Regions from separate parts of the Homo sapiens genome. Here all the other regions are linked to region 1. Evidence: fine-mapped expression QTL. A gene starts in region 1. Each other region holds a variant in brackets. All regions are shown on one strand. Distances are between the middles of the regions.

Region 1 (2,755 bases):
CCACGCCCCCATCTCCTCCCCCCAGCTCCCACGCCTACCCCGGGGCCCCACCCAGCCGGAAAAGAGCCCAGAGTCTTCCAGGCCCGTGGCCTGACTGGGAAGGAGCTGCGAGGAAGCTCAGGCCGGCCGGGTGGAGGCCCTAGGGAAGGAAGGGCCCAGGGGGCAGAAGAGGATGCACCCAGGATGGGGATGGGCAGCCGAAGGTGGGGACACAGGCATTTGGGAAGCACCAGGGGCAGGACAGGGAAAGGGGGGCCAGGATGTATTGGGGTTCAAGGTCCCAAGCCTAAGGAGTGGGGAGCAAAGTTCCCAGGGGTGGAGGAACTTGGGGGGCAAAGTCTCCACTAGGGGGTGACTGGGTGCTCCCATCTGAACAGGGAGCTGGGCTGGGATCCAGAAGCAGGGCGAAGGGGTGCCAACCAGAACAGGGGGAAAAATGATGAATGGACGAGGACTGTTCAGGCAGGGCACCGGGGAGAGTAGGGGCGCCCTGGCACACACCCAGAATGAGGATGCCCCCAGCCAGCCTGGAAGTCAGGGTCCTGCAGCCGGGGAGTCTAGTGCTGGGCAGGGGTCTGGGCACCAGGCCAGGATCGGGGAACGAGAATTAGTCTGGCAGGGAGCGGTGGGAAGAACGAATGGAAAACGGGGGGACGGGGTTTATTGGGGTTCAAAGTCTCTGCGCCAAGGAGTGGAGGCAAATTTTCCAGAGCTGAGGGACTGGGAGTTGGGGGGACAAAGTCTTCATTACGGAGACGATCGGGGACTTAAGTTTCCGGGGCGCCGCCAGACTGGGATGAGGGTGGCGCCACGGGCAGGCGAGGCTGGGGTGGGGGTCCCCAGCGTCTGGTCGAGCTTGACTGAAAGAGTCCCGGGATTTGGGCGGAGCAGGGGCCCGCGCGCTTACCTCGTCCCATTTGATGAACTTACTCCCGCGCCGCAGGGTCTCCACCACGGTGGGCGGCTCCAACTGCAGCGCGTGGACGCCGGGCTGGGCGCCCGCCATGGCCCGGCCAGGGGCGGGTCGGGGACCCACGGAGCCCTGACGGGGACCGACGGCGCCGCTGCTCCCACCGCGCGGCCCGCTCCGGCCCCGCGGCGTCAGTGCCCGCCCGCCCGCCAGTCTGTCCCGGACCGACCAGAGCCTCGGCGGGGCCCGGGCGGGGCGGGGACGGGGCGGGGCCTCCCGGGCCCCGCCCCCTCCCACCGCGTCGGCTCCCCCTGGCGGCCGGGGCGGCGACTGCAGCCGGAGCGGGGATTGGGGCAGGGGCACGCGGACGGGTCGGGGGCTTTGCTGCGGGGCTCAGCAGAACCTGATTCTTCAGGCCTGTGGTGGAAGGAGGGCGCTGGGGGCCGAAGTGGCTGTTGGGGAGCAGCTGGAGGGACTGGGTGTAGAGGGCGCTGCTTAAGGCGGTCCGGGATCAGCCCACTGAGGTTTCCGAGCGACTAGGGCTGCAGTACCAGCGGAGGGCTAGACTTGGGCCGGGGGGTCGCTGCACAGCCCTGTCGCCCACCCTCTTCTGCCGCACTTAGCTGAATGCAGGAAAAGCTTCTTCCGCCCCCCTCTGCCCTGGCTTCGCCTCACCCACTCTTATGCCGCGCGGTCCCCCCTCCCTGGGAGCACTTAGCCGGCTAATGGACCTCCCGCCGGCAGGCACCCCTCCCCCGTCCCTAGCCCAGGGAGGCCGGGCGCCTGCCACCTCCTTTAAGGACCCAAGCATCCTGGTCTTCGAGAGTGAGCCCTAGAACAGCCCCCTTCTTGTTGCTGCAGACTCCCATGACTGGAACCTGACTGTGAGCCTCTTGGCTGGGAACCGCGGGGGGAACGCTGTTGTCTGCCCAGAGGGGTCAGAAGCTTTGTGGATGTCCCCAGACAGGAGGGTTGAGGAGGGGCTCTGCAGTGCCTGGCCCACAGCAGGTGCCCTGAAATCTGCGTTCCAGAGATGGGAGCGGGGAAGGCGCATGGGCAATGGGATGGGTGGGGGCTGCAGCCCCTCCCGCAGGGCTTAGCTGGTGGGGGGGGTTCCTGCCTGGGGGCCCCTGTGGGAGCCCCCCCAATACAGAGGCAGTAACAGCAGCAGGTTTAAAGTAGAACTCATCCAGAGGGGCCAGCCAAGTCACCTAGAAACCCAGAAAGAGATGCAGCTGGCTCTGGGGGAGGAGGGGTCAGCAAAGGAGGAGCTCCCCTGCAGGCCCCTTTGCCCCAGGCTCTGAGACCTCCACAAGGAGCCCTGCCTGGCCCTGGCCTTCCTCCACACCCCGCCAAGTTCTCCATCAACTCTAACCTGGCGGATCTCCTCGCTCTCAGCCCTGGCCCTGTGGGGTGTGATTATGATCTCCACTTGAGGCCCAGAGAGGGGAAGGGACTTGCCCAAGGTCACACAGCTTCTTAGGAGGATTTCAACCCTCCGACTTCCTGAGGCCCAGGAGCCTCTAGACCTCATTGGGAAAACAGAACCATGCAAGGTGGAGCTTGGCCTCTGCCCTCACAGGCTGGAGTTCAAATCCGGCTCTTGCTAGCAGCCTCTTGCTAGTGGCAGAACCTAGTCTCTCTAGGTGCCTCAGTCACCTTGTCCAGAACCTAAAGGTTGTTGTATACATAAGCAAATGGGTGGGAGATGCCAAATTGACATGAGTAGCTGGAAGCTGTGGGTATACCAGGGAGGGAGGAAAGGGCATAGGTCAGCTCTGGGGCAGTGGAACCTCCAGCTTGTGCCAGGGCTAGCAAAGCCTGGAGCCAAGGCCTGAGCTTAGG
Region 2 (2,755 bases), 110 kb after region 1:
AAAACAAATAAAAATAAGAAAATCAGATTCTGTTTCCCTACTGATCTCCTGGCATTTGAAATTCAGGACTGGTTTCCACTCTTACATTATTGGGCTATGAGATGTGATTGGGATGTGTGTGATGGTGTGTGTGTGAGGTCAGGAGTTTGGCCTGTGTGTGTGATGTGTGCGGTGCGTGTGTTTGTGATGTAGCATGTTTGTGTCTGTGCTTGTGTGATGCGTGGGGTGTGTGTGATAGAGTGTGTGTGTGAGGTCAGGAGTTTGGCCTATGTGTGTGGGGTGTGCGTATGCATTTGTATGATGTGTGTGATGCGTGTGTGTGCGTGATGTGTGTGTGTCTGTGCTTGTGTGATGCATGGGGTGTGGGTGATGGAGGGTGTGTGTGGTGTGATGTGTGTTTGTATGGGATGTGGTGGGAGTGAGGTGGGAGGTTGGGCAGAAGCATAGAAGTGGGGATGCCTGGCTGGCGGGTGGCAGGGCTTGAAGTTGCAGGGACGGAACAAACCCCCACACCCTCAGGCACAGTGCAGGCCTCCCTGGGCCCTGTCCCCGTGGGCTGCCAGCTGAGGCCACTTGCTTGGGTAGCACCCGGGAGAGTCTCAGGTTCCTGCCATCTGTGTCGGCCACGGCTCCTGCCCACAGGAGCATGGCGCATCCGTCTTAATGAAATTGGGCTGCCATGTGCAGGAGATAAGCCAGGGAGCCCCCGCAGGCCCCCTCTTCTGGAGGAGGAGGTTCTCAGAGCCGGTGCCTGCCTCTCCAGCCTTGCCTATGACCTCAGTCCTGTGTCTGGGGAGAGCGCCGGTCTCAGGGTATCCACTAGGGGGTGCTGTGGCTGCCAGGGTGTTTATGTCTCCTTTTTACCACGGGGGTGCAGTGACCTTGACTAGGCCACCTCCCTGCCCTTGAGTTTCCTGGTGCACCAGACCTGTGTGTGTGGACTTCTTGTTCCTGACAGATAGCAGAGTCCTGGGCAGGACATGTCCGGGCACAAAGAAAGATCCCCATTCTTGGCCAGGCACGGTGGCTCACGCCTGTTATCCTAGCACTTTGGGAGGCCGAGGCGGGCGGATCGCTTGAGGTCAGGAGTTTGAGAGCAGCCTGGCCAACATGGTGAAACCTGGTCTCTACTAAAAATACAAAAATTAGCCGGACACAGTGGCATGCGCCTGTAGTCCCAGCTAGTCAGGAGGCTGCGGCAGAAGAATTGCTTGAACCTGGGAGGTGGAGGTTGCGGTGAGCCGAGATTGTGCCACTGCACTCCATCCTGGTTGCTGGGTGACAGAGCAAGATTCCATCTCAAAAAAAAAGAAAAATCCCCATTCTTGGCCAACCCAGGGGTCCAGCTGCCTGGCTTTGGCCTTCATGTCATAAGAGGACAGGGCAGAGATGGATGAAAGGCTTTGTGCAAAGATGGAAGGGATCTTTTGTTTCAATGCCAGCCCAGAGCA[G/A]TGAGCATGGGCTGTGCGCACCGTGGCCAGGAGCAGGTCAGGGTCCCAGCACCCCTGCTGGCCACTCCGTGGCCTCTACTTCCTCATCTGAGAAATGGCATCAGCATCAGTTCCACCGAAGGGCAGGGGTGAGGAGGACAGGAGTTCAGGCCTGTCCAGCCCTGGGCCCAGGGCCTGGCACACGGAGAGTCCCCAGGAAATGATTACTGGGAAGTCAGGAGCGAGAGCTACTAAGCAGAGTATAATGTGACAAAGTGCTAGGAGCAAGGTCTGAACAAAGTGCCACGCAACGCCGCAGGGACCAATTAATTCTGCAAGGAGGTGGCGGGAGGCGAGGCGGGTCAGCTAGCCTTTGAGGGGCCCAGGTGTGCGGCGGGGACGGGTGGGAAGCCATGTTTCACAGCGACAAGCCGACCTCGCAGGGAGATTTTTAAGCCGCTTATTTATTTAAAATAAGTCATGAAGTGGCGCTCTATCTCCTTAAGTCTTGGGGCTTTGATTTGTGAGAATCTGCTGGCCGCTTATCACCGCCCTCCTCCCAAGCACCGGCAGCCCCTGCCTCATCCTCTCCTGCCGCCTGGAGGGCCCAGCAGAGCCTGGCCTGGTGAGAAGGAGCAGGCCAGAACCTGAGTGGCCACCTGAGCGGCCACCCGCCCCTGCGTCCGGCTGTCCCTGGGCACTGCTTGGAGTCAGTGATTTAGAGACCGCCTTGATGGACTACCAAGCAGGGGCCCCGCAGGGATGCGGACTGCCTTGTGGGAAGTGATCTGACGCTGAACTGTCGCCGTAAATCGCTTTATCTGTCACTTCAGATTTTAATGTGTTTGCTGAGGCTTGCCGGCCACCACGACAGCAGAAACCTCTCCGCAGTGGGCAGGGGAGATGGCCGGGCCAGCGACGAGTCCAGGGCTGGCTGTACAGCAGACTTTGCAGCTGGAACCTGTTAGCAACATGGGCCTGGCCCTGGGCTCCCTCCTCCTCGGGGAAGCCAAGCGCAGGTGGGGCCGGGCTCCCTCCTCCTCGGGGAAGCCAAGAGCAGGTGGGGCCGGGCCACTTTCCGGTGCCCTGGCCACTCTGGATGTGCTCAGTGCTCTCAGAGGCCCGAGAGGCAGGCAGGATTGTTACCCCATTTTCGGGGATCAGATAACAAGCCCCACCTCGGCAGGTGACTGAGCCAGAATTCGAACTCAGGCACTTTCATCCATGCAACATACATAGATGATACGGCTGCTGTGCACCACGCCGTGGGGTGGGCCTGGGCTGCAAAGGACACAGTCTCTAATTCCGGATAAGGGGTAACACAT
Region 3 (2,755 bases), 59 kb after region 1:
AGGTCGACAGTCTTGCAGCCATCCTCATAAGCCTTCTGGTAGTCTCCTTTCTTGGCATAGGCAGCAGAACGGTTGCTGTACAGCACGTGGTTGTGGGGATCCAGCTTAATAGCTTCGGAGTAGCACTGTAAGGCATCATCGATGTTACCCACGCTCAGGGCCTTGTTGCCTTTCTCCTTCAGCTCATTGACCTGAGGGGAAAGGAACACACAGCTTCTCTATGATGTGCCCATTTAATCCCAAGCTTTAAAGACAACACTCATTCTTTCATGTAGTTACCAACAAATAAATAGGTGACTTTACAGATCAGAAGAGAGAAAACCGGTTCATTTATTTAATTTCTCACACCTTCCCTAAGGAGCCAGCAAAGAAAAAATAAGCAGGGGCAAAGAGCCCAGGCTGCACTCCACGCTGGCCCCCATGTGACGAACGAGGGCTCTGCCACTCTTCCGGTCTCCACATGGAGCTCACGAAGCCACTCCAGAATGTGCCACATGCTCCTTCCATGGAAAAGTCAATTCATTTGCCACAGATTTCCAAAGCATCCAAATGACAAACAGAGCACAGCCCTAGTCACCCCTCACAGGAAGAAGGTGGGCGGAGTGGCACTGATACATGCTCCAGTGACCCAAAGGCTGTGGGATGGCAGCGGAGACTTCTCTTTCTTGGGAGCGGCAAGATGCTTGCCTATGGCATAGTTGTCATCTCCTCCCATCAGGGAAGAACCAGTCTCCATTTCCTGGTGTGGCAACATGTCACCACAGGATAGATAAATGTTCATTAATGGGTAACAGTCAAGCTAGCTCCCCAAATTGATTCCTGCCATTCTTAAATATTACATTACAAAGGGGATGGAGGATGAAGAAATGCTACTGTGGTTTAAACCTCTCCCTTCTCAAACATATAAAGTGCAAGAAGTAAGGATACAGCGGGGTTTTGTTTTGTTGTGTTTTTTGAGACAGAGTCTCACTCTGTCACCCAGGCTGGAGTGCAGTGGCACGATCTCGGCTCACTGCAACCTCCGCCTCCCAGGTTCAAGCGATTCTCCTGCCTCAGCCTCCCAAGTAGCTGGGACTACAGGCGCACACCCCCACACTTGGCTAATTTTTGTAATTTTAGTAGAGACGGGGTTTCACCATATTGGTCAGGCTGGTCTTAAAACTCCTGACCTCAGGTGATCCACACGCCTTGGCCTCCCAAAGTGCTGGGATTACAGGTGTGAGCCACCGCGCCCGGTGGGATACAGCAGTTTTAAAAAGTGAGGCAGCTCTGCCTGGCCGCCCCACCGACTGGGAAGTGAGGAGCGCCTCTGCCCGGCCACCCAACTGACTGGGGAGAGAGGAGCACCTCTGCCCACCTGCCCCACCGTCTGGCAAGTGAGGTG[T/C]GCCTCTGTTGGGCCACTGTGCAACCCTCCAAGTGTGAAGTGACAGCCTTGTGTGTGATCTTTCTGCCCTCCCCAAGTTTGCATTTTCCACATTAAATTTTACTTTTTCATTAAAAAAAAAAAAAAAGTGAGGCAGGCCTTGGCCCTGTCAGAACAGTGTCCTCACTAAAGGGTTTCTCCTTACTGAGCTGCCCCACAAAAGGTCAGGTGCCCCACAGCAGCCTACCTGAGGGCAGGCAACCCCTTGAGAAGCTCATTGTATTTATTATTATTATTTTTTGAGACAGAGTCTTGCTCTGTCCCCAGACTGGAGTGTAGTGGCACAATCTTGCCTCACGGCAACCTCCGCCTCCTAGGTTCAAGCGATTCTCCTGCCTCAGCCTCCTGAGTAGCTGGGATTACAGTCACCCGCCACCACGCCCAGCTAATTTTTGTATTTTTAGTAGAGATGGAGTTTCACCATGTTGGCCAGGCTGGTCTCGAACTCCTGACCTCTTAATCCACCCATCTCAGCCTCCCAAAGTGCTGGGATTACAGGCGTGAGCCACCGCGCCTGGCCATATTTATTTTTTTTTAAAGATGGCATCTCACTCTGTTACCAGCCTGGAGTGCAGTGGCATGATCACAGCTGACTGTAACCTTGAGCTCCTGGGCTCAAGCAATCCTCCTGACTCAGCCCTTTTTTTTTTTTTTTTTTGAGACAGAGTTTCACTCTGGTTGCCCAGGCTGGAGTGCAATAGCACAATCTTGCCTCACCACAACCTCTGCCTCCCAGGTTCAAGCGATTCTCCTGCCTCAGCCTCCTGAGTAGCTGGGATTACAGACACGCACTACCACATCCGTCTAATTTTGTATTTTTAGTAGAGACGGGGTTTCTCCATGTTGGTCAGGCTGGTCTTGAACTCCTGGCCTCAGGTGATCTGCCTGCCTTGGCCTCCCAAAGTGCTGGGATTACTGGTATGAGCCACTGCGCCCGGCCAACTCAGCCTTTTAAGTAGCTGGGACTACAAGTGTGTGTCACCATGCCTGGCTAAATGTTTTTTTCTTTTTGTGGTAGAAATGGTGTCTCACCATATTGCCCAGGCTTGTCTCAAACTCTTGGCCTAAAGCAACCCTCCTGCCTCAGTCTCCCAAAGGTGAACCACCACACCAGGCCAAAATACACTTTTAAGAGGTAAACGTTCTGTGAGATAGAGTTGTCACCGAAGTTACTAACTCATTCTATGTATTATCCACCCACGACCCAGTAAATTGATGCAAGAAATAGTTTTGTCAAGAGAAATGATTTTAGGCTGTAATCTCAGCACTTTGGGAAGCTGAGGCGGGTAGATTAACTGAGGTCAGGAGTTCGAGACCAGCCTGGCCAACATG

Evidence for each region. PIP is the estimated chance that this variant, and not a neighbour inherited with it, causes the effect.
Region 2: its variant is fine-mapped to the expression of PLCB3 in whole blood (INTERVAL, PIP above 0.99).
Region 3: its variant is fine-mapped to the expression of PLCB3 in whole blood (TOPMed, PIP 0.95).

Annotation. Positions count from the first base shown.
Region 1 is chr11:64,249,901-64,252,655 of GRCh38, reverse strand. It overlaps PLCB3 (phospholipase C beta 3), which reads right to left and starts at 1,126. Exons shown (of 31, transcript NM_000932.5): 1 at 908-1,126. The coding sequence starts at 1,006. RefSeq lists silencers at 144-357, 845-1,314 and enhancers at 1-393, 394-1,039, 2,334-2,755.
Region 2 is chr11:64,144,327-64,147,081 of GRCh38, reverse strand. All of the region lies in intron 3 of MACROD1 (mono-ADP ribosylhydrolase 1), which reads left to right. Among named protein-coding and RNA genes, the nearest start is that of MACROD1, 20 kb to the left of the region's middle. RefSeq lists an enhancer at 614-1,115. The variant G/A (reference allele first, on the strand shown) is at 1,452.
Region 3 is chr11:64,190,514-64,193,268 of GRCh38, reverse strand. It overlaps STIP1 (stress induced phosphoprotein 1), which reads right to left. Exons shown (of 14, transcript NM_006819.3): 2 at 1-191. Among named protein-coding and RNA genes, the nearest start is that of STIP1, 5.7 kb to the right of the region's middle. The variant T/C (reference allele first, on the strand shown) is at 1,385.